Linked DNA regions of Homo sapiens: all the other regions are reported to be linked to region 1. Evidence: microRNA targets listed by miRTarBase, many of them from high-throughput screens and not tested one by one. Region 1 holds a microRNA gene; each other region holds the end of a gene's coding sequence.

Region 1 (4,492 bases):
CTGCTTCTCGACAATCCCCCAGGACCTCCAAAAGCCTTGGCTGGTCAAAATAGAGTCATGTGTCACTTAACAACGGGGATCCATCCTGAGAAAGGCATTGTTAGGTGATTTTGTTATTGTGCCAACCTCACAGAGTGTGCTTACATAAACCTAGATGGTGAATAGCCTGCTGCACACCTAGGCTAGGTGGGGGAGCCCATTGCTCCTAGGCTACACATCTGTACAGCACGTTCCTATCCTGAATGCTGTAGACAATTAGAACACAATGGCAAGCGTTTGTGTACCTAACCAGAAAAGGCACAGTAAAAACAGTGTTATAATCTTATGAGACCACTGTCCTACATGCGGTCCCTCGTTGACCAAAACATCGTTAGGCAGTGCATGACTGTATCTGCAGGGTGGGGCTGGATAGGGCAGGGGTAGGGAGACCTGCTGAGAATGGAGGAGATCCATGAAGTGAAATAAGGATGGAGGACTTTCAGTCAAGGAAAAGCAAGCTCCAGGGTCACAGTAGAGGGGGAAAGACCCTCAATTCACTGTTCTATTTTCAAAATGGCTAGTTCACTGGGTCTCAGACAGACAGTGGATTCTGAGGCTCCTTCTATTTTATTTTATTTATTTTTTGAGACAAGGTCTCACTGTGTTGCCCAGGCTGGAGTGCAGTGGTGCAATCTTGGCTCACTGCAACCTGCAACTCCTGGGCTCAAGCAATTCTCATGCCTCAGCCTCCCGAGTAGCTGGGACTACAGGCACACACCACCACACCCGGCTAACTTTTGTATTTTTAGCAGAGATGGGGTTCTGCCATGTTGGCCAGGCTGCCTTCTATTTTAAAATACAATGCAAGTTCCTGCGCAGATAGATGCCTCCTCTACTCCTGCCTCAACTTCTCAGGAAAGGTTGGGGGGCATCTTGTCCAGCCCAACTCTGTTGCCTCTAACATCACTGACCCGGAAGATGACCTTCCTTGGGCACTGCACGTGCAGCTAGGCTCTTCCAGGCCTTCACTGCACACAAACCAGGGAGTTCCTGCACCCTCCTGGGCTCCAACCTGCACAGGAATATCTTGATGTCCAGCCCTCCCGACCCTCAGCCACTCCAATCCTCCACCAGAAGAGAAGATGCTAAAAATGCACGCAAACAAAATTGTTTTAATAATCAGCAAATCCCCATTCACTCTTATTTTGGACGTACATTCCAATCTGACCCCAGGAAGTCCCGGTCCTCCCAGAAGGGCCAGGTGGGTGAGAGGCAGGTTGCTGGCCGCTGCCCGATGCACACTGCAAGAACAATAAGGATTTTTAGGGGCATTATGACTGAGTCAGAAAACACAGCTGCCCCTGAAAGTCCCTCATTTTTCTTGCTGTCCTTGAACACTCTCCAGGTGAGGAAGCAGTCGTCTGCCACGCCCAGATGAGCCGAGGTGAAGCTGGTGTTCCCTCACCCGACACTGACGCCTTCCCCACAGCCCATGGAAAGCTCCCTGGTGGGTGGGAAGGCTGCAGGGTCTCCAGAGAGACACAATTTTCTCCGATGCCGGGCCCAGCTGCGGCCAGCCTCGCCGCCCTCCCAAGGCATACCCAGGAATGACCTGGGTTCCACCTAAAGCCAACTCAGAACCCAGCGCCTTCTGCCTGCAGGAAACTGCAGACCAGCATCCTGGTGGAATCCCAATGTGGAGAGCAGCCCCCAAAACTCGGGAACGTGGCAAGAACTATACTATAGTCTGTAGCCCCTGTGTTCACAGGAGGGGCGTGGACCATCTCAGAGAGACAATGATGGTCTCAGGCCTGGCGTGACACATGAACACAAGACAGCCAGCCTCCAACCTTCTTGTAACCAGGCCTGAGGCCAGGCCTGATTCAGGCAAAGAGAAGAAAACACCAGGAAGTGCCCAGAAGAGCAACCCAGGCCTGAAAACCCGGGAGAAGAGCTGCCCCGACTCTCTCCAGCCCATCTTAAAGAACGGCACACAGACAGGAGATTCCAACAGGAATGGGCACGGGAACTCCGGTTCCGCTTCTCTCCAGCAGTCGCGGCCTTGGTTACTCTGCCTGTAAAATGGGCCTGGAAGGAGCTAAGCTCCCACCACCCTCTCTCCCATTTCAAAGGGAAAGCCAAAGAGGAAATGAGACTTTCAGCTCTGTCACAGAAAGCAAAGGGGCTGGAAGAGGCTGCAACCTGTGAGAAACAGCACGCCCTGGGGTGCTGCTGAATGGATCTCAGGCCCGCCCACCAATTCTCGGCCATATCCCACCCTGCCCTTAGCAAAAGAGCAACAGCTTCACATTGGCCTGAGTGGGAAGGCAGGTCCTCCCAATACCCTTCTATGAAAACGGCCTACAATGGGCAACAAAGACAAGTGTGAAGACCTCTGGAATGTCCTAGGTGGTTTCTGGGTTCAAATCAACAAGCCCACAGGCTCTGCTGGGAAGCACAGGCTGAAAGAAACCAAGGTTGGGTGAAGGAGATGGTGAGACAGTGGCCAAAAAGAAGGGAAGAGACTGGTGGCCAATTTGTTTTTTGTATGGGAGGATAAAAAACAAGAGCTTCCAGAATCAGAGACTCGTAGAGGATTCTCCTTAATGGGACAATCCCTTCTGTCCCGAGGCCCAGGTGAGCCTCCAGGGCAGTAGAGGGTCAACCCCAGCGTCAGGGCATCAGGGCCCAGACCAGGAAGGCCCCTAGGGAATGAGGTCCTGCATGTGCCTCCCACCTGTGGAATGTCACCCAGCAACAGGAAACGTGTCTCCTGAGGCCAGGCCACTTTGCCCAAGGCCCCGGCACAGCTGGAATCTGTCCAGCCTGGCACTGCACCTGCTCTTTGGGGGCCCCACTGTCCATGCAGGAACCTGGCCTGTCAGGACACAGGTTGCCACCGCTGTGGTGAAAACACATCCCCACAAAAGACAGCCAGCTGCTGGCACCACTACCTGCTAACTTGCTGTATGACCTGACCCTGTGTAAATTACTCGGCTTCCCAGCCTCAGCTCTCTTATCTGTAATAGGAATAATAAGCCCACCTGGAAGGGCAATGTAAGGATCGAAAGAAAGCAAAGTGTGTAGCAGGCTCCTAACAAAAGTGGATCCCCTCAGACCCCAAGGGCAGGGGCTGGGCCATAGCGAATTCTTCCCCTCTGGGAAGGGGGCTGGGTCAGGGTGCCAGCCCGTGCCTCGCTGCACCCTGGGCACTGACACTGCATCTTCTCCCCAACACTCCACGCTCCTTCCAGTTCAGACTGTGAGGAAGTGTGCCTGCTATCCCGATTGCCAGCTCCAGCCTCAGCCCTCTCAAACTGACATTCTGGCACCTGTCATCCACCCGGAGCTTTCTGTCCTAACCAAGATCACAGACATATTCTCCACCAACAAAGCAGAACTGAAGCAGTCCCCCCACACTAGGTTCTGCATCATCTGAACCACTGAACAGCACACCTGCATCACTGTGCTGAGCTGCTCCCGCTGCCTGGCACACCTTACCCCACGTGGTGCCGTGCAATAAGCAGGCAAGACCTAGCTCACCACTCACTAGCCTCGGGCCAGCAACTTAACCCCGAGTGCTTTTGTCTGTTCCTGTGTGAGTCTGGGGTTACTACCTATTTCAGGGGTTGTCTGGAGGACTGAATGGGTTCATTCATGGAAAAGGCTTAGAACTGTGCCTGGCACAAAGCGTTCAATCAAGATTAGCTATTATTACCATTCCTGCTTTGTTCTTCAAGACTCAGCTCACCTCTTCTGGGTGACCTTCCTTGACCCCAGACTCTCCCTGGGTTACAGCCCCTTCCTTCTCCCCATTCCATCATCCCAAAGCTCATCACACTGTGCTTTACCTATTGGTCCACCCAACCAGAGCACAATCCTGGGGCCACCTGCCTCACAATCACACAAACTTATTAACAATGCTGATTGCACCCCCCTTCCCAGGTCTATCAAGGGGCCCTGGAATCTGCATTGTTAATAGGCTCCTGCTGTGATTCTCCCAAGTTTGAACCACTGCTCTGGCACCTGTCATCTACCTGAGCTTTCTGCCCTAACCCAGATCCCAGCCATATTCTCCACTAGCAAAGCAAAACCCAAGTCCCCACACCCATTGCTACAGGCAGGTGCTTGGCCCAGAAACAAAAGCGCCTGGTCCAAAATCAAGGAGGCAGGGTCAGGAGAGCTGCCCCTGAGAGTGGCTGGAGGAGCTCCTCACACCGTGCTGGGTATGTGACAGTGACCCACCTGGGCTTGGCTTTGACAGCAGAGCTAACCTATCACCAAACACACCAGCCACCCAGTCCAGTTCCATGCGCCTTCCCTGAGTGCTCACTCTGCATGGCCCTGGGCTGGGCACACGCTGACGACTGAGGTGCATCATGTGCCAGGTGGCAATGGGACCGGTCAGGGTGATGTCCCACCAAGACCAAAGGGATGAAGTCACGACCCAGCTCTTGCATATTGTAACTGTGGTTGATGCAGACCCACCACCCTTTATTCAAAATTCTCAACT
Region 2 (4,000 bases), not on the chromosome of region 1:
TGTCTGACTACGAGGTGTGCAAGGAGGGCGATGTGCTGACCCCAGAGCAGGCTCGCGTCCTGGTGAGTCTGGCGCCTTGCGGGCTGTTGCGGGCGGGGTTGCTGGCTTTCCTCTGCCTGCTGAAAATGCCCCCCTGCACTTTGAATACCTTCATTCCTCCTGATTCTTTGTTCCCTTTGTCTCTTGCAGAAGCTTTTTGGGTATGAGATGGCTGAATTCAAGGTGACCATCAAATACATGTGGGATTCACAGTCGGGAAGGTTCCAGCAGATGGGAGACGACTTGCCAGAGAGCGCATCTGAGTCCACAGAAGAGTCAGACTCAGAAGATGATGACTGAAAGGGACTCGGGACTGAAGGTCTCCTGGAAGCTTCTGGGTCTCACTGGACCATCAGGACTGCTGCCGCCCCTCTGGAGAGAGCAGCTTTTTATTTGTCTGTAGACAGGGAACATGATGGGCACTGACCTCCTGTAAAGAATAAAACTGTGGGCCGGGCGCGGTGGCTCACGCCTGGAATCCCAGCACTTTGGGAAGCCGAGGTGGGCAGATCATAAGGTCGGGAGATTAAGACCATCCTGGCTAACACGGTGAAACCCCGTCTCTACTAAAAATAGAAAAAAAAACTAGTTGGGCATAGTGGCATGTGCCTGTAGTCCCAGCTACTCAGGAGGCTGAGGCAGGAGAATCACTTGAACCCGGGAGGTGGAGGTTGCCGTGAGTTGAGATTGGACCACTGCTCTCCAGCCTGGGCAACAGAGTAAAACTCTGTCCCAAAAAAAAAAAAAGAATACAACCTTGCAGGATGTCTCTCCTGGAGACAGCAAGAGGGAGAGGAGGGAGAGGGCTCTTTCTTAGAAAAGAGGCCTTTGGTGAGCCCAGAAGTTTGAAACCAGCCTGGGCAATTCAGCAAGATCCCGTCTCTACAAAAAATAAAAAAAAATTAGTCGTGGTGCCACTTGCCTGTGGTCCCCACTGCTTGGGAGGCTGAGGTGGGAGAATTGCTTAAGCCTGAGAGTTGGAGGCTCAGTGAGCCATGATCATGCCACTGCACTCCAGCCTGGGTGGCCATTGAATTCTGCGTGGATTGCCTCAGTTTGCCTTGTCAGCCAACTTCCACTGGCTGCCTTGGCACTGCCATGACAGCACAGCTCCACACCAGAGCTGGGGTTTCTCTTCAGTCCTGGGTACCCCTTGGCAGAGGGATTTGCTGAGGAAAATTAGGTATCCTTCCTAGCCCTCCACACACTTCCAAACCAGGGCTGCGGATCTGATGGATGCCAGGAAGACAGCCTTGGGCTGAGAGTGACATCACTGCAAGAGTTGAGAGCCAGCGTCTAAAGTGTCCACGGCATCCTGGGAGGTTTTATCCTTGGTGACTCTAATGGTAGATTTTTGTCCACCTTGTTCTATTTGCTTTTGTTTGTTTTTGATTTTTCTGTTTTAAAATTTTAAGGAGAGATGGGGTTTCACCATGTTGCCCAGGCTGGTCTCAAACTCCTGAGCTCAAGCGATCTACCCACCTTGGCCTCCCAAAGTGCTGGGATTATAGGTGTGAGCCACCGCATCCAGCCCACATTGTTCTATTTGTATTTCATGAAAGCAGTTCTGAATGAGAGTAAATCAGCTTCAGGGTGTACAGTGGCCCTCTTTTTTCTGCCATGCATGGAAGAGGGCCACCTCCAGCCCTGCTGTTGGGAGGTCAGGCTGGGTCCCACGGTGTGGGGTGACCTTCACAACGGCATTGTGCCTCTGACACCCTCTCAGTGCCTCTGTTCTTTGGAGACTTCCTACTCCCGCCCACTTCTCACCACGCCCTTGGGAAGGACAGCAGGAAGCAGGCTTCGGGCAGAAGAGGAATTCACCATGTTCACCCAGGCCTAGGCCAGGTCAAGCACCAGCCTCAGCAGGAAGTGCTGAAGGAGAGCTCAGGCCCGGCCCTCTCGCCTTGTGAGGATGACTGGGAAGACTGCACGAGTGTAGGGGAGGATCTGCAAACCGGGCTGAGAGGGGAAAGCAGCCTACAACCATTTAAGGCCAAAACTGGCCAGGGGGAGAGAATGAAGGGTGGCAGGTGGTGCCCTCCGCACCTGAGCCAGGTCTAGCCAGACCTGGAGGAGGTAGTGGGATGGTCAGGTGCCAGGCTTGGTCGGCGGCCTCTGTGACAGCCGAGTCCAGGGTCCCTTTGCTGCTGCCAGTTTCTCCAATTGCTCCATCCAGGATGACCACGTCCCTATGCATGCCCTGTAAGGGAGACAGCTAGACTTCAACACATTTCTGCTGCACAGTGACTAATCATGCCCCTCCCAGCCATGGCCCCGCCGCTAACTGGGCTCTGGTTATTCACGTATGCCTTGCATTACTGCTTGCAAACAGCCATGACCGTTGGGCTTTAAAGCCCTGCCTCCACGCTGTCTCAGCTTTAGACAGCTGACTTCAGAGCCACTCATCTGCTGCTCAGCAGCTGGGTAAACCCAGGTCAGTCACCCAGCCTTTCAGCTTCAGACTTCAGGCCGCTTGTCTGAATTAGAAATTGTGTGAAGCACTTTGCCTGCAGACCAGGCACGTAACGTGCTCACTAAAGGGAAGCCATAACCATATAATACCCAAGCTGGAGAAGGGGGTTAGGGACAGCAGGGAGAGGGAAACCCTGCCACTACACACAGGGTTGGGCTGTCTCCAGGGTGGGCAGCCAAGGAGCCAGGAAAAGCTAATGGTTAAAAATGTAGGTTTCAGACCAGATGCAGTGGCTTGCACCTGTAATCCTAGCAATTTGGAATGCTGAGGTGGGCGGATTGCTTGAGCCCAAAGACTCAAGATCAGCCCAGGCTCAGGCCGGGCACGGTGGCTCATGCCTGTAATCCCAGCCCTTTGGGAGGCCGAGGCAGGCGGATTACGAGGTCAGGAGATGGAGACCATCCTGGCTAACACGGTGAAACCCCGTCTCTACTAAAAATACAAAAAATTAGCTGGGCATGGTGACGGGCGCCTGTAGTCCCAGCTACTCGGGAGGCTGAGGCAGGAGAATGGCTTGAACCTGGGAGGCGGAGCTTGCAGTGAGCCGAGATCACAGCACTACACTCAGCCTGGGTGACAGAGCTAGACTCTGTCTCAAAAAAAAAAAAAAGATCAGCCCAGGCAATGTAGTGAGACCCCTGTCTCTACAAAAAATACAGAAGTTAGTCACATGGTGGTGTATGCCTGTGGTCCCAGCTACATGGGAGACTGAAGCGGAGCATTGCCTGAGCCCTGGAGGTCAAGGCTGCAGTGAACCATGATCAAGCCACTGCACTCCAGCCTGGGTGACAAGAGGAAGACCTTGTCCCCCCAAAAAGAAAAACATTAGTTTCAGTCAAACCCACGTTCGTTCCCTACCATGTGTAGCTGTGGGACCCTACACAAGTGAAATTGCCTCTGAGCCAGTTGCCTCATGTAAAACTGAGATGACCATACTTAACATGGCCATCGCAATAACTAGTGTTGGTTACCTGGCCGCTTAAGTAATTTGTGTAAGAACAGGTTTACCCCACCCAAAAGAACTGGGCCATGGAGAGCCTTCATAGGAAGAAAAGGACTTAACTCCTCTTGGTCAAAGTGACCAAATGACTGCATAGCCCTCGCAGCTTCCCCAGTCTCCCCACCCCCACAGAATTTGAGAGAAGCAGCTGAGCATCTAGAGACAGCTGGGTTACCTGCAGCTTGCGAGTGGTCCATCGCAGGACAGTCAAGGCCATGCCAGGGGCACTGGTGCTATATACACAATCTGCAGGACCTGCTCCACCAGGGCCATGGCCTTGAAGTGGTGCTTGTTCCAGAAGCTGGGTTGGGGGAGGGTATTGCACGGGGGTCAGTACTAGGGGTCATCTCAGGGCGGTTGCCTGCACCCAGGTCCCTGAAGCACTGAGGGGCTAATGGCTTCTAAGTAGACATCTTACATTTTTGAGCATCAGAATGCATGCATGTTTCTGGGCCCCTCATCCGTGTTCTTGGGTGGCTAGAGGG
Region 3 (4,492 bases), not on the chromosome of region 1:
AGATATGCCTAATGTTAAATGACGAGTTAATGGGTGCAGCACACCAACATGGCACATGTATACATATGTAACTAACCTGCACATTGTGCACATGTACCCTAAAACTTAAAGTATAATAATAATAAAAAAAAGCCAGCTAACCAGCAAAACAACTAACCAACCAACCAGCCTTTTATGTAATACCCTCAGTCAGCTATGTTGAACATAACTTTTGAGTCCTCTACACAACACATAAGAGTACTAGCCTAATGAGAATTTTATGGTAAAGTTCCTTTCATAGAGGCTATTCTCTCCCTGCAGTTTTAAAGCCTGTTTAAAGTAAAACTGCTGTTTTTATTTCTAAGATTTCATTGCTGAAACCTCCACTTGTTCTCCACCATCTGCCTAACCTTCTCTTTTCATTATAAATATCCACCTCTTTTTCTAGTTTCTTCAACAAGAGTGACTTGTGAGTTATAAATACTACATCTAAACTTCCCTAGTTGTTCAAATAAGACAGTTCTAGGCCAGTCTAAATGGAAGCAACCCAAACGTTTCTGAGCTTGACTCTGTTACCTATATTTATACTCACTAATTACAACTCTATGCACACAAACATGTTTAAACGTCTAAATGGGGATAAATGAGGAAAGTGCCAGTTTATCTGCTGCAGAATTAATTGAGTTGCTCTTGCTGTCTCAAGGGTACGGGCTGGCTAATAGGTCAGAGTTGGGTTCTGAGGGACAAAGCTCGAAGAAATCAGGCCAGATAGAGTAGTGAGCCAAGTCAGTCTCAGAGGGAAAAACCAATATAAGCATAATACCCTACTTGTAGCTGCCTAAGCATGAGTTGAAATTTAAAATAAGGGTTAGTTCAGAGTGAAGGCAGATGAGAAACAATGGCAGGGTACTGAGGTCTTAGCTGAATGTCAGATAATCCAGTTGGCCTCCTGAATTATCAGTTATAGAGACATTTAGGATTTATTAGCATTGTCTTTCTCATATTTCATATTGGGCTGTGTTGGTGACCCATGGGGAAGCCAAATAATGTGATAAAATTGCTTATGGAGCCCAGTGGTGAGCTACCATGTATTGACTCCCTCCTTCAAATCTGAATGCCTGTGTTGGACTTCTTTCCACTGTACTGTCAGCCAGTGGTGCAGTGTTTTTGGACATTACTTGTGTGAAATCTGATACTACAAAAATAAAAAAAATTTGTACCTGGTTGACTCTTAGGGCAGATGGAGAAGAAATAATTCTTAACATTTTAAACAGAATTTGCTGGTGATCTCAGCTATGCTAAAAGATAAGGTAACATAAGTAGCTACCATGGGGAGAAAATAGGGTAACTAATTATGATTATACAATACAAATAGACATGTGGTGATGAGATTTATGTCTAAGTGTATATTATCAGGCACAAATTCATAGTGTTTATTTAATTTTCCATTTCAACTACTAATGAAGTACTTTATAAATGTAGGATACTAAAATTATGTCAAATTAGTTCAAATTCTGCACTATGTGGAAGAAAGTACTGTAATTACTGAACAGTAGAAATATAATTGTTTATAGTACTTAAGCATCACTGCAATTAAGACATCACATTTGTTAAGCTTTCTTTAGAATCTGTGCTTAGTAATTTTTTAAATCCTTTTTTTTAACCTCAATTTCTGAGATTGCTACACATCTCTTTTTAAAATGTCCTTAATAGTTTAAAAGTTTTGGTATTCAAAAATCTCTGTAGAGTCTCAGTCTATTGGTATGACTCAGGATTCAAGACTGAATGTGAATGGATTTAATTTTTAGTTTATTTCATTTTAGTATCTTTACTTGGTATAAATGCAATACCCAAAAGAGGCAGCAAAAGAAGAAAGTAGATCCATATGTAGGTAAGAAAAGGTCACTATCAGTATATACAATTCAACAGTTGGAAGCCTTAGAAGGCTGAAGTCTTGTTTGACTATTAAAATGTCCTTGGAAATTGTTCCATTTGTTACTAAATTTATGAAAATTTAAATATATATTTTCATTTTTTTAATAGTTTTTCTAGCTAATCCCTAGAAACACATAAACATGTTGTTCTAAGTTTGTTATTTTTTTTCTGTCTTACTTCTGCTAATTAGATTTTCTCATTAAAACATTTTCCATTAATACCCATGTAAAAATTCTCAAATAATATTTTTATAAGTCATGCATATTGATAATAAACGTCTACTTTCTAAATCAACTTCTTTCGTCATTCTATAAGACAATGACTTTCAGAATAAATAAAAATGTGGTACTAGGTGTTATTATTTACATGTCCCAGAGCTAAAAGTTGAATGTTCTAGGCTGCCAAAATTTAGTAATAGCTAGTGTTGCCACCTATCAGACATACATGGTAAGTTCCTTTAGATAGTATGGGCAATGGGTTACTATAGTGAGCTTGATCTCTGCATTTGTGTGTGTGTGTGTGTGTGTGTGTGTGTGTGTCAGATATGTTTATGATTCTAAGTAGCACCATGCATGGCTATTAAAGGTAAAAGTAACAGCAGGGGCATGGTTCCAAATGCTTAGTAAAGATGTTTATTAAAGCTGGCTCTCAAGTGACAGATAAATGCATAGTTCTATTATGCATGCTAAATTCAGTATGCTGCAAGCTTAAAAGTAGATAGATCAAAACAAGAGAGATTTAAAAAATCATAAAGAAAAAATGCAGCTATGTCAGTGTGTGACAGGAAAATAATTTTTCCTTAAAAGTGATCTCCCTCACCCCCTCAAGAAACGTAACCACAATTTATGGAACAAAATTGAAAGCAAGTTGGCAGTGTGCCTTCTCTTAACTTGCCTGGCATCAAGCTATAAAAACCCCATGTAAATGGACTTTTCTTAAGCCAAGATACAATTAAACAAAAAACTACATCACATAATCACTGCTGTATAATTCTTATTTATTAATGTGCAATATTTAGTTCTTAAAAAACAAAAACAAAAAACACATACGCAAAACAAGACATTAAACAAATTCTTTCATGCACGGCTTCTCTACCTGACAAGGTTCCGCTGCATGATTTTTTGAGGAGTTCCCTTGCTCAGGGTTGGCATATGTTTTTCAATTTTCACTATCCAGAGCCATATTTGCAGAAAGATATACGAATATTGTAAATGGTGGGATGTGCTGCTCTCATATGATGAAAACTTCAGTTCCTTGGTTGTCTGGGACTTTGTGTAAATGCCAATAAATTTGAGAGTTCGCCCAACTGTGTCTCTTAACCTTTGTTCCCAAAGGTGAAGGGCAGGATTTTTAATCAAGTAGCAATTTATCTTTAATTAGGAAAACATAATTAGGTATCATCACCTCATTTCAATTACTGGTGGGAGAAAGTCACATTTCACGAGTAGTGACCCATGTTGGGTTATGGATCTCCTATTACTGAATTTTGCATCTGTATTTATATTTGGCAGACAGCCAATAAAAATTAAAAGGTGATCACCATGTTTCTCTGCAGTCCAGTTGTCAAAGTCACCAACTCTGCTGCTGAATAAGAAACCAAGAGATACTTCCTGAGTCACATTTAGCTATTTCTGTTTTCTGCTCAGACATCAAGTGTAGATCAAAATAGTTGTATACAAAACGCCCATGTGAAATAGGTTAGGTAACTGTTCCACACTTCATTTCTGGTACAGTTAAAAACAGTTTAATGTCTCAAGGCACCACTATGGTTGAACATCAGATACATGGGTCATCAGCTAATCTTCCACTATGCTGTAAAGTCAGTAATAGCTTGTGCAATTGTGAAAAGCAATCTCTAGAGGACTGTTGAGTATACAGTAGGCACGTGTATTATAATACAAATAGAAAACAATGAATCCTAGAAAAAGCATGTTGAGCACCGTTGTGGCATTGTTCATATTTTTACCTAACACTACGTAAACCTTACATATACAAAAGGAAAGACTAAATTTTTAAAGTTACACTCAAGGTTGCTTTTTGTGTTATCTCCAAGTCTATCTCCGAGTCTAGTTCGTAGGTGTACTTTTAGAAGTCGTTGGGTCTTGATCAGCTTCTGTTGCACTAGTAGATTCGTTCAACTGTGAGCTCAAGTTTTCCGAGGTTAGGTGGGAAGACTTGTAGACGATCTCATTGAAGTCAGACCTGATGCAAACCAAAGAAGGGTCATTCAAGGGGTCTTCTACTGAAGCCTGGGTGTTTTCTCGAGTGATTCCCATGTCTTTGCTATGTTCTGATGGAGATTTTCTTTTCATGCGAGTGTAAGTTTTGTCTTGATTCTCCATGCGTGGCTCATTTTTCAAAAATCGTCCAAAGAACCAAATAAAGAATCCAAACCACACAAAGGCTATCAGGCTTGGAACAAAGGCCAGACACTTGACATCAAGACTGGCTCCTATGAACCTGCTGTGTAAGAACATGTCTCCCTCAACATATGTTTTATTAGTCCGAGGGTTAGTGTGATTGGACCTCCATTCCCAGGATAGCTTGGTTCTGTTCAAATCTTTTAAACTTTCTGAGT
Region 4 (4,492 bases), not on the chromosome of region 1:
TCCCAGGTTCACGCCATTCTCCCGCCTCAACCTCCCGAGTAGCTGGGACTACAGGTACCCACCACCACGCCCAGCTAATTTTGTTTGTGTATTTTTAGTAGAGACGGGATTTCACTGTGTTAGCCAGGATGGTCTGGATCTCCTGACCTTGTGATCTGCCTGGCTCAGCCTCCCAAAGTGCTGGGATTACAGGCATGAGCCACCATGCCCAGCCCACTGTGGGAATACTTGTGTTGAGCACTTGCTGTGTGTTCTGAATAGGACAACCAGGGTCCACCCCTTCTCTCTGGGCTTGTTGAGAAGAGGGGTGCCCAGCCTGACAGTGATGGGACAGGGAGGCTTCAGTGCCATTTGGCCATGTGAGCAGTGTTAGTCTGAGGTACACATCATATTGCCTACAGCCTTCTTTCCTGTGTGTCTGTTAACATTTCCAAACCTACACTCCGTGACATCCAGCCTCACAGCTTACATCACAGCTTAATGTCCTGGCATTTAAGAGACCCAGCGTTCTGTTTTCCCCGCAGTAAGCTGCACATAGTCATAGCGAATTTGGGAAAGATGGAAGGAATCATCCAGCCTCGCGGTTCAGAGCCCAGCTCTGCCACTGTCAGCCATGCAAGCCTCAGTTTTCCCATCTGTAACATGGGGAGAACAGCACTGCTCAGCCCAGAGGGCCACTGCAGAGATTCTGAGAGAGAACGTAGGAAGCGCTGCTCGGCACGACCTGCACACGGGGAGGCCTGGCGCTGCAGCGGGCACCCTCATCACCATAGGGAAGGCCCAGCTGCCTCCGGGGAGGCCCGTTCTCCTAGGCAGGGTGTTGGAAAGGGGTTGGCCTCTCTGCTGCTTTCTGGGAGAGCCAAGGCCACCCCTCTGGGGTACTGACAGGGCATGCCTTGTCTCCAGTGGTTCCCCAGGTGGGGCCCTGCCCTACCCTCTCCTCTGACCTCCACTCACTCATCCCTTTGGCCCACAGGTACATGTGGGGGGCAGCCTGGCCGTCCTTGGGGGGAAGCTGTACGTCTCTGGGGGATACGACAATACATTTGAACTCTCGGACGTGGTAGAGGCCTATGACCCAGAGACTCGCGCGTGGAGCGTGGTGGGGCGGCTCCCAGAACCCACCTTCTGGCATGGCAGTGTCAGCATCTTCCGCCAGTTCATGCCCCAGACCTTCTCGGGTGGGCGTGGCTTCGAGTTGGACAGTGGCAGCGATGACATGGACCCAGGCCGACCCCGGCCGCCGCGGGACCCCGATGAGCTGCACTAGCCCCAGTCTGGCCCGGCACGGGCCTCGGTGCAGGTAACTGGCACCTCTGCGGGGCAGTGCCCCACTCCTTTGTGCACAAGGACACGTTGGGCTCACAGGAGGAGCACAGGCTCTTGGGTGGCGAAGCCAGCCCAGGATCCATTACCTGGAAGGTTTCTGTACCTTGAGAGCCTGAATCAGAGGCCGTCGGGAACGCCCTCCCTGCAGTTGAGGAAGAGCCACTTTCCTGCCAGCACATGTTTCTGGGTCTTGGAGGTCACCCCCACCCCGCGGATCACAGCTCACCCACGCGGCGCACACCCCTCCTGCCGTTGTCATCTGCACCTACTTGTTCCCACCTTGGGAGAGGACGATGACTTGGGAGGGACGCGTGAAGGGAGAAGGGGTCCTCCCATGAGGCTGAGGATGGCCTGAACCTGGAGCAGCGGACCAGGCAGACGGGCTGAAGTGGGGTCCCAAATTCCATGTCCAGAGGTGTGGGGAGCCTGCCTCCCTAGCTCCTGGCCCCTGCCAGGGGCTTACATCAAAACACCTCAGAGGGCTGCCCTCCAGAGGCTGCACCCAGAACAGTGGGACATGAGCAGGGGTGTGGGCTTGGAGGGTGAAGAGGATGTGGTCCTATCAGATGCTGGGCCTCCTCAGCCATAGCCCCCTGCTCCTACCCCCTGACTGGCTCTTGCGTCCTCACCTCTCACCCTCTCCTTCCCGGGAGGCCCTGGGAGGTGATCATTGACACCCAGCCAAGCAGACAGCTGCGGGTGCCCAAGCCCTTGCTGGGCCTGCGCGTGAGGAGTCCCACTGCTTCTAAAGGAAGTCCTGGGCAGGAGGTGGCTTTGGTGGTTGGTTCCAAAGTTGAAAATGCTTGCAGTTTGACCTTAGAAGAAGTGGGAAGAAGAAGGAGCTCTACAGGGTCAGCTTTGTTTGATTTGTCCAGTCTAAGAAGTCCCATTGCCAAAGCTTTCTGCAGGAGGGTGAATGCCGCAGCTTGGCAGCCCCTGGGTTTCTCTTGGAAATGGTCAGTTTCCCCTCAAAGTACCCAAAGTAGCCTTGGCTTGAGTTTTTGTCCTTGCCTCCTTTTTAGAGAAGAGGGCATTTAGACTGCATTTTCCTGGTTAAAGAAGGTTAAAGCAAATGTTTATTGCCTTTTCTAGTGAACTAACTCGTAGAGATGTTCTCAGCAGGAAGACAGTCTTAGCACTGTCACTTAGCAGATTGCACTTAAGTCCCTTGTGCTGGCCAGATGGCGTGGCTGGTTGCCTTAATATGTCCCAGGACCCCTGACAGGGCTGCCTGGCCTCTCCCTCGTGCTCCTCAAGAGCCCAGTCCATACACTGTGGATGTCATTGCTGTCGGGTTAGGAAGTCTTGTCCTAGAACGCCCTGGCTGGTATGACCACAGTTCATGGCGGCTCTTCTCGCTTGGGTCATGGTCATCTTCCAGCACCTGCTGTGCTGGGAAGGCCGAGGATGGGGGCCCAGCACTGTCCAGGCCTGCTGGGGCCTGGCTGGGAGTCCTGTGGGCAGCATGGAACATGCAGCTGGGCTTCCTGTGACCAGGCACCCTCTGGCACTGTTGCTTGCCCTGTGCCCTGGACCTTTTCCTGCCCTTCTCCTTCCTCTGCTCCCTTGGGGCTACCCCTTGGCCCCTCCTGGTCTGTGCAAACTCCCTCAGGGAGCCCCCCTGCCCTGTAGCTCTCGCTTAACTTCCTAGGGGCTGCTGAGCCCACCCAGAGGTTGTTGGAGTTCAGCGGGGCAGCTTGTCTCCCTTGTCAGCAGGGGCGTAAGGGCTGGGTTTGGCCATACAAGGTTGGCTACGCCCTCAATCCCTGACCGTTCCAGGCACTGAGCTGGGCACCCACGGAAGGACATGCTGTCCAGACTGTGATGACTGCCAGCACAGGGCATCTCGGGCTTGGCTGGTCTGCGAGGCCTTGCCCCTGTGGAACTCTGGGTTCCTGTTTTCTCAGTCTTTTTTGCGGCTTTGCTGTGGTTGGCAGCTGCCGTACTCCAGGCTTGTGTCGGCCACTCAGATGAGGGCTGTGGTGCGAGCCAGTGCAGGAGAGCTGCGCTTGGGATTGTGCCCTCTCCTGTGTCTGTCCTCCGGACCTACCCAGGTCTCCACCATCAGGACCCTGTCTTTGGGTTTAGAAGACCAAGTATGGGGAAAACCAGGCACCAGCCTCTGCAGCAATGGGTCCCTCTAGCCTGTGGACACCAGCTGGGGGATCCAGGGTCAGGCCCCCTCCTCTCCCCAGTTTCCCTCTGCTGTGGGTTCTGGGCTGTCATGTCTCCACCACTTAAGGATGTCTTTACACTGACTTCAGGATAGATGCTGGGATGCCTGGGCATGGCCACATGTTACATGTACAGAACTTTGTCTACAGCACAAATTAAGTTATATAAACACAGTGACTGGTATTTAATGCTGATCTACTATAAGGTATTCTATATTTATATGACTTCAGAGACGCGTATGTAATAAAGGACGCCCTCCCTCCAGTGTCCACATCCAGTTCACCCCAGAGGGTCGGGCAGGTTGACATATTTATTTTTGTCTATTCTGTAGGCTTCCATGTCCAGAATCCTGCTTAAGGTTTTAGGGTACCTTCAGTACTTTTTGCAATAAAAGTATTTCCTATCCATTTGGAGTCATTGCCTTTGTCCTCCTGCTACTGTCTTCTGGGACTCTTGGGCTGAGGACAGATGTCAGGGGAACAGGCAGCATGGAGCCCAGGGTTCACACTGAGGGTCTTAAACAGCCTTCCAGGCCCTTTCTCATCTCAGATTGTAGCAAGTGATGAAGCGTTGGAAAAGACATGCCCCAGAGGCTGGGTGTGGTGGCTCACACCTGCAATCCCAGTGCTTTGGGAGGCTGAAGAGGGAGGATCACTTGAGCCCAGGGGTTCAAGACCACCCTGAGCAATACGGGAAGACCTTGTCTCCATTTAAAGAGAGAGGCCTGAGAAGTAAATGCTGTGGAACAGATGATGCCCAGGAAACCTGCCTGCTCCAAAGCTGGTCTTTGCCTGTTGGTCCTCTGCCCGGGCCCGGCTCCCACAGCCCTTCTTGAGATTGCGGTACATACAGGTGGTGATGAGACTCCCATCTGCGATGAGATGGCCCTTGGACCTGGGGAGGTGGAGCCCTTCAAATACAGTCCCAAACCAGGCTGTGAATCCACACAAGCCGTCTGGCTCAAGATGTTTTTCCTATCTGCAGAGTC
Region 5 (4,492 bases), not on the chromosome of region 1:
TGGTTGGCTACAGTTTGTTAAAGATTCTTATTTAAAAGTTTTCTACAACTTTTATAGAAAAACTAAGTTATTTCCAACATTAGATTACATTTCTCATCTGTTATCTTTGTATTTTACTCACAGGGTTAGACAGACTGATATGCCTTGTCACTGGATCTCCAAGCATCAGAGATGTCATAGCCTTCCCAAAGTCCTTCCGGGGACATGACCTCATGAGCAATACCCCAGATTCTGTCCCTCCTGAGGAACTGAAGCCCTATCATATCCGAGTCTCCAAGCCAACAGACTCCAAAGCAGAAAGAGCTCATTGAATCATGCATACCATGCAGAAAGTTGAGCTTTTAGGTTTTGTCCTCTTTGCTTCCCCAAGGCTAAAGTCAGATCTAGAGTTCTGCCACAGGTCTAACAATCAAGTCTTTAGATGGAAGGAATCCAGGCAACATTCTTCACCACAACGAAGAAACAGATAAAAGATACCCAATTTTGACTTGATTTCATGCATCATTTGGATTTTTTTTGGTTAGGACTTTTTTTGAAGTTCCTTTTTACTTAGGTGTGAAAGATGGTTCTTTGTTGAAATAATATAGTGGTTTAGTGTTTTCAAATCATGTTTCTCATACCCAGATAGTAGATTATTCACTTAGGACAGAGGTAATCAAATTATGTGTGAAATGTAGGAAAATGCTTGCCCCTGTAAACTAGTGAGTTGATGGAGCATTTGCTTCATCATCCTCATCAAGAGAATCATATAAATTAAGCTTTATAATGACATTTCAACCATCAACATAATATAGTGAGGAGTAGCATAATATTTTTTAATAATGCAGAAAACATCACTGAAATGAGAGTCACAAATTTTTCTTCAGTGTTTCAGCCTGAGTAAGTTACATAAACCTCGCTTAGCCTCCCTTCCTGCTAATGTGTAAAATACATACTTGCCCTGGCTACCTCACCGGGCTGTTATTGCTGGAATCAGAGGAGATAACATATATGGAAGATAAAGTGAATAAAAGTACTTTGAAAAACTATAAAGCATTCCACAAATATGAGATGATGGTATTATCCATCCATAAATAGGTAGATATATCTCTATTTTATAGTTTCAGATTAAACAAAACTGATATCAATAGTAAAAGTCATTTTACTTATCAATTTTCTGTTTTTTTTTTTAGTTTTAAAGATATTATTGGCCGGGAGTGGTGGCTCACACCTGTAATCCCAGCACTTTGGGAGATTGAGGTGGGTGGATCACTTGAGGTCAGGAGTTCAACACCAGCCTGGCCAACATAGTGAAACCGTCTCTACTAAAAACACAAAAATTAGCCAGGCATGGTGGCGCATGCCTGTAATCGCAGCCACTCGGGAGGCTGAGGCATGAGGTTTGCTTGAACCTGGGAGATGGAGGTTGCAGTGAGCCAAGATGGTGCCATTACACTCCAGCCTGGGTGACAGAGCAAGACTCCATCTCAAAAAAAAAAAGACAACAAAGATATTATTAATCACTGAACACTATTTTCTCTCAATTATAAGTAATTGAAAATTCTAATCAACCTTAGATTAACCTCAAATGTGCGAAAAAGTGAACACCAAAACTCATTGTGATTTTAAGTTCTAATCATACACATAAAAGTTTTAATAAACTAATAATTATAAAATGAGGCCGGGTACAGTGGCTCACGCCTATAATCCCAGCACTTTGGGAGGCTGAGGCAGACAGATCACAAGGTCAAGAGACTGAGACCATCCTGGCCAACATGGTGAAACCCCATCTCTACTAAAAATACAAAAATTAGCTGGGTGTGGTGGCACATACCTGTAGTCCCAGCTACTCAGGAGGCTGAGGCAGGAGAATCACTTGAACCCAGGAGGTGGAGATTGCAGTGAGCCGAGGTTACACCACTGCACTCCAGCCTGGCAACAGAACAAGACTCCATTTCAAAAAAAGACAAAATGAGAACAAGGTCTTGATCAGTGATTTTGAAATTGTTTTCTTCTACTCAGTCTTCACTTCTGCCTTGAAATTCTTTTGATTTATACCTTTTTTTTTTTTGAGACAGAGTCTCGCTCTTTTGCCCAGGTTAGAGTGCAGTGGCACCATCTTGGCTCACTGCAACCTCCACCTCCTGGGTTCAAGTGATTCTCCTGCCTCAGCCTCCTATTTAATTAATTAATAATTGATTTAATGATTTAGTTTAAAATGTTAAATTCATTTTAAAATAACCCATTACATGTTAACACAAATAGCATGTTTTTATTTTATTTTATTTTGAGACAGAGTCTCACTCTGTTGCCCAGGCTGGAGTGCAATGGTGCGATCTTGGCTCACTTCATCCTCCACCTCCCGGGTTCAGGCAGTTTTCCTGCCTCAGCCTCCTGAGTAGTTGGGACCACAGGTGCCCTCCACCACACCTGGTTAATTTTTGTATTTTTAGTAGAGACGAGGTTTTGCCATGTTGACCAGGCTGGTCTCAAGCTCCTGGCCTCAGGTGATCCGCCTGCCTCAGCCTCCCAAAGTTCTGGGATTACAAAGGCGTGAGCCACCACACTCAGCCATGTTTTTATTTTAAAAATAATTATTTTCAAAAAAAAAATAGAAGAGTAACATTGTTTTATATTTCTGCAAATATTTTTTATTTCTGGCTTAATAGAAGACACTAGATTCTGATATCTGCTTCTGTATCCTATCTGTTGTTATATGCTGTTTTGGTTGAAGTCTGTGAAGAAAATCTGACCCCACTCATATATAAAGTTGGAAAAGGGAGGAGTATTTTAATAGCTTTGTCTGATAATTATGGATACTCTCTTTGATACCACACCAAAATATGACAAGTAGTAGAGTTCCTTAAAGGCTAGTTGCAATGTGGATTCTGAAATCGTATTGATGAGCTTTTCTAAAGTCCATTGGTGTACCTTGTATTTAAATAGAACTTTTACCTATGTGTGATATTTGTAACACCAGTCCAGTGATTGATCATTTGGAAAATATTGGTTCACTGAGTTATGCAAATCTTCCAAATGTTGACACATTTTGATATACAATATCTAAAACAAAATACCATTAATTAATATTACCACCAATCCCATTACAAAAGTCTAAGTCTGAGGAAGCTATAAGGGCACAGAAGTGTATACAAGCCTTCCAAAATTTTAGGTTTCATTTGGAAGCTTGAGTTTTATCATTGGCAACAAATGCCATCAGTTTTTTCCAAGCTGACTTGTTCTTTTTTGAGCAAATCTCTGCCAAAATTACCCCTAAAATATGAATAATCAATTTGTCAGGTTTTTTCAAACTAAAAATGTTCTGTGAAAACAAGCAGCTAGTTCAGCTTGTATCTCAAACAATTGTAACTACTTTTTCTAGGGAAAAAAAAATCTAGACATCCATACTTTATGGCAGATGTGCTTCATGCATACTTCCCATTTTGTCACACAGAATATCAAAATAACGTGTACTCAAGGTCAAGATTTACTAACAACTAAAATTCCAAAACTGCTAAACAACAGAATGCTGAATAAGGTGATCCAATTTTTAATATTTTATTTGAGACAACATCTCACCCTGTCACCCAGGCTGGAATCCAGTGGTGTGACACAGCTCACTGCATCCTCAACCTCCTGGGCTCAAGCGATCGTCCCACCTCAGTCTCATGAGTGGTTGGGACTACAGGCATGCACCATCATGCCCGGCTCACTTTTTTTTTCTTTTTTTTTTTAATTGTAGACACAGGGTCTCACTATGTTGCCCAGGCCGGTCTTGAACTCCTGGACTCAAGCAATCCCCCCACCTTGGTTTCCCAAAGTGTTGGGATTACAGGCATGAGCTACTACATACAACTGAAATCTTTTAATATGCTTGTCAAAAAGTTTTCTGATTCAGCAAATGGCACTTATATATAAAAGAGAGAACAAGAAGCTGGATGCGGTGGCTCACGCCTGTAATCCCAGCACTTTGGGAGGCTAGGTGGGCAGATCACGAGGTCAGGAGTTCGAGACCAGCCTGGCCAACGTGGTGAAACCCCCTCTCTACTAAAAATACAAAAATAGCCAGGCATGGTGGCCCACGCCTGTAATCCCAGCTACTTGGAAGGCTGAGGCAGGAGAATCGCTTGAACCTGGGAGGTGGAGGTTGCAGTGAGCCAAGATTGCGCCGCTACATTCCAGCCTGGGCAACACGAGCGAAACTCCGTCTCAAAAAAAAAAAAAAAAAGAATAGAACTTGGCTGGATGCAGTGGCTCACACCTGTAATCCCAGCACTTTGGGAGGGCAGGGCAGTTGGATCACTTGAGGCCAGGAGTTCAAGACTAGCCTGGCTGACATGGTGAAACTCCATCTCTACTAAAAATACAGAAAAAAAAATTAGCTGGGAGTGGTGGCACACACCTGTCATCCCAGCTACTCAGGTAGTTGAGGCACAACAATCACTTGAGCCTAGGAGGCCCAGGCTGGAGTGAGGTGGCACGATCTTGGTTCACTGCAACCTCCACCTCCAGG

The links. Region 1 holds the annotated microRNA hsa-miR-365b-5p (AGGGACUUUCAGGGGCAGCUGU, at 1,331-1,352, opposite strand). A microRNA usually pairs through its seed, bases 2 to 8, with sites in the 3' UTR of a target mRNA and lowers its output. Matches are read on the target gene's strand: a 7mer-m8 pairs with bases 2 to 8, a 7mer-A1 pairs with bases 2 to 7 and ends in A, and an 8mer does both.
Region 2: the mRNA of MRTO4 is a reported target of hsa-miR-365b-5p. Seed matches in the 3' UTR shown: 7mer-A1 at 653-659.
Region 3: miRTarBase lists TMEM117 as a target of hsa-miR-365b-5p. Seed matches in the 3' UTR shown: 8mer at 3,178-3,185.
Region 4: miRTarBase lists KLHL21 as a target of hsa-miR-365b-5p. Seed matches in the 3' UTR shown: 7mer-A1 at 2,062-2,068, 8mer at 2,211-2,218 and 7mer-m8 at 2,491-2,497.
Region 5: the mRNA of DARS2 is a reported target of hsa-miR-365b-5p. The part of its 3' UTR that is shown has no 7-base or 8-base seed match.

What each region holds. Positions count from the first base shown.
Region 1 is chr17:31,572,299-31,576,790 of GRCh38, reverse strand. It overlaps MIR365B (microRNA 365b), which reads right to left and starts at 1,380; the gene lies at 1,270-1,380. MIR365BHG (MIR365B and MIR4725 host gene) reads right to left here. Exons shown (of 3, transcript NR_186556.1): 3 at 1,132-1,280. It overlaps MIR4725 (microRNA 4725), which reads right to left and starts at 1,522; the gene lies at 1,433-1,522. RefSeq lists an enhancer at 2,806-3,425.
Region 2 is chr1:19,258,492-19,262,491 of GRCh38, forward strand. MRTO4 (MRT4 homolog, ribosome maturation factor) reads left to right here. Exons shown (of 8, transcript NM_016183.4): 7 at 1-62; 8 at 190-1,637. The coding sequence ends at 339. Among named protein-coding and RNA genes, the nearest start is that of MRTO4, 8.7 kb to the left of the region's middle.
Region 3 is chr12:44,388,161-44,392,652 of GRCh38, reverse strand. It overlaps TMEM117 (transmembrane protein 117), which reads right to left. Exons shown (of 8, transcript NM_032256.3): 8 at 2,895-4,492. The coding sequence ends at 3,981. Among named protein-coding and RNA genes, the nearest start is that of NELL2, 490 kb to the left of the region's middle.
Region 4 is chr1:6,590,143-6,594,634 of GRCh38, reverse strand. KLHL21 (kelch like family member 21) reads left to right here. Exons shown (of 4, transcript NM_014851.4): 4 at 977-3,911. The coding sequence ends at 1,270. Among named protein-coding and RNA genes, the nearest start is that of KLHL21, 10 kb to the left of the region's middle.
Region 5 is chr1:173,857,395-173,861,886 of GRCh38, forward strand. DARS2 (aspartyl-tRNA synthetase 2, mitochondrial) reads left to right here. Exons shown (of 17, transcript NM_018122.5): 17 at 124-1,152. The coding sequence ends at 311. Among named protein-coding and RNA genes, the nearest start is that of GAS5-AS1, 3.6 kb to the right of the region's middle. RefSeq lists enhancers at 3,520-4,236, 4,237-4,492 and a silencer at 4,007-4,157.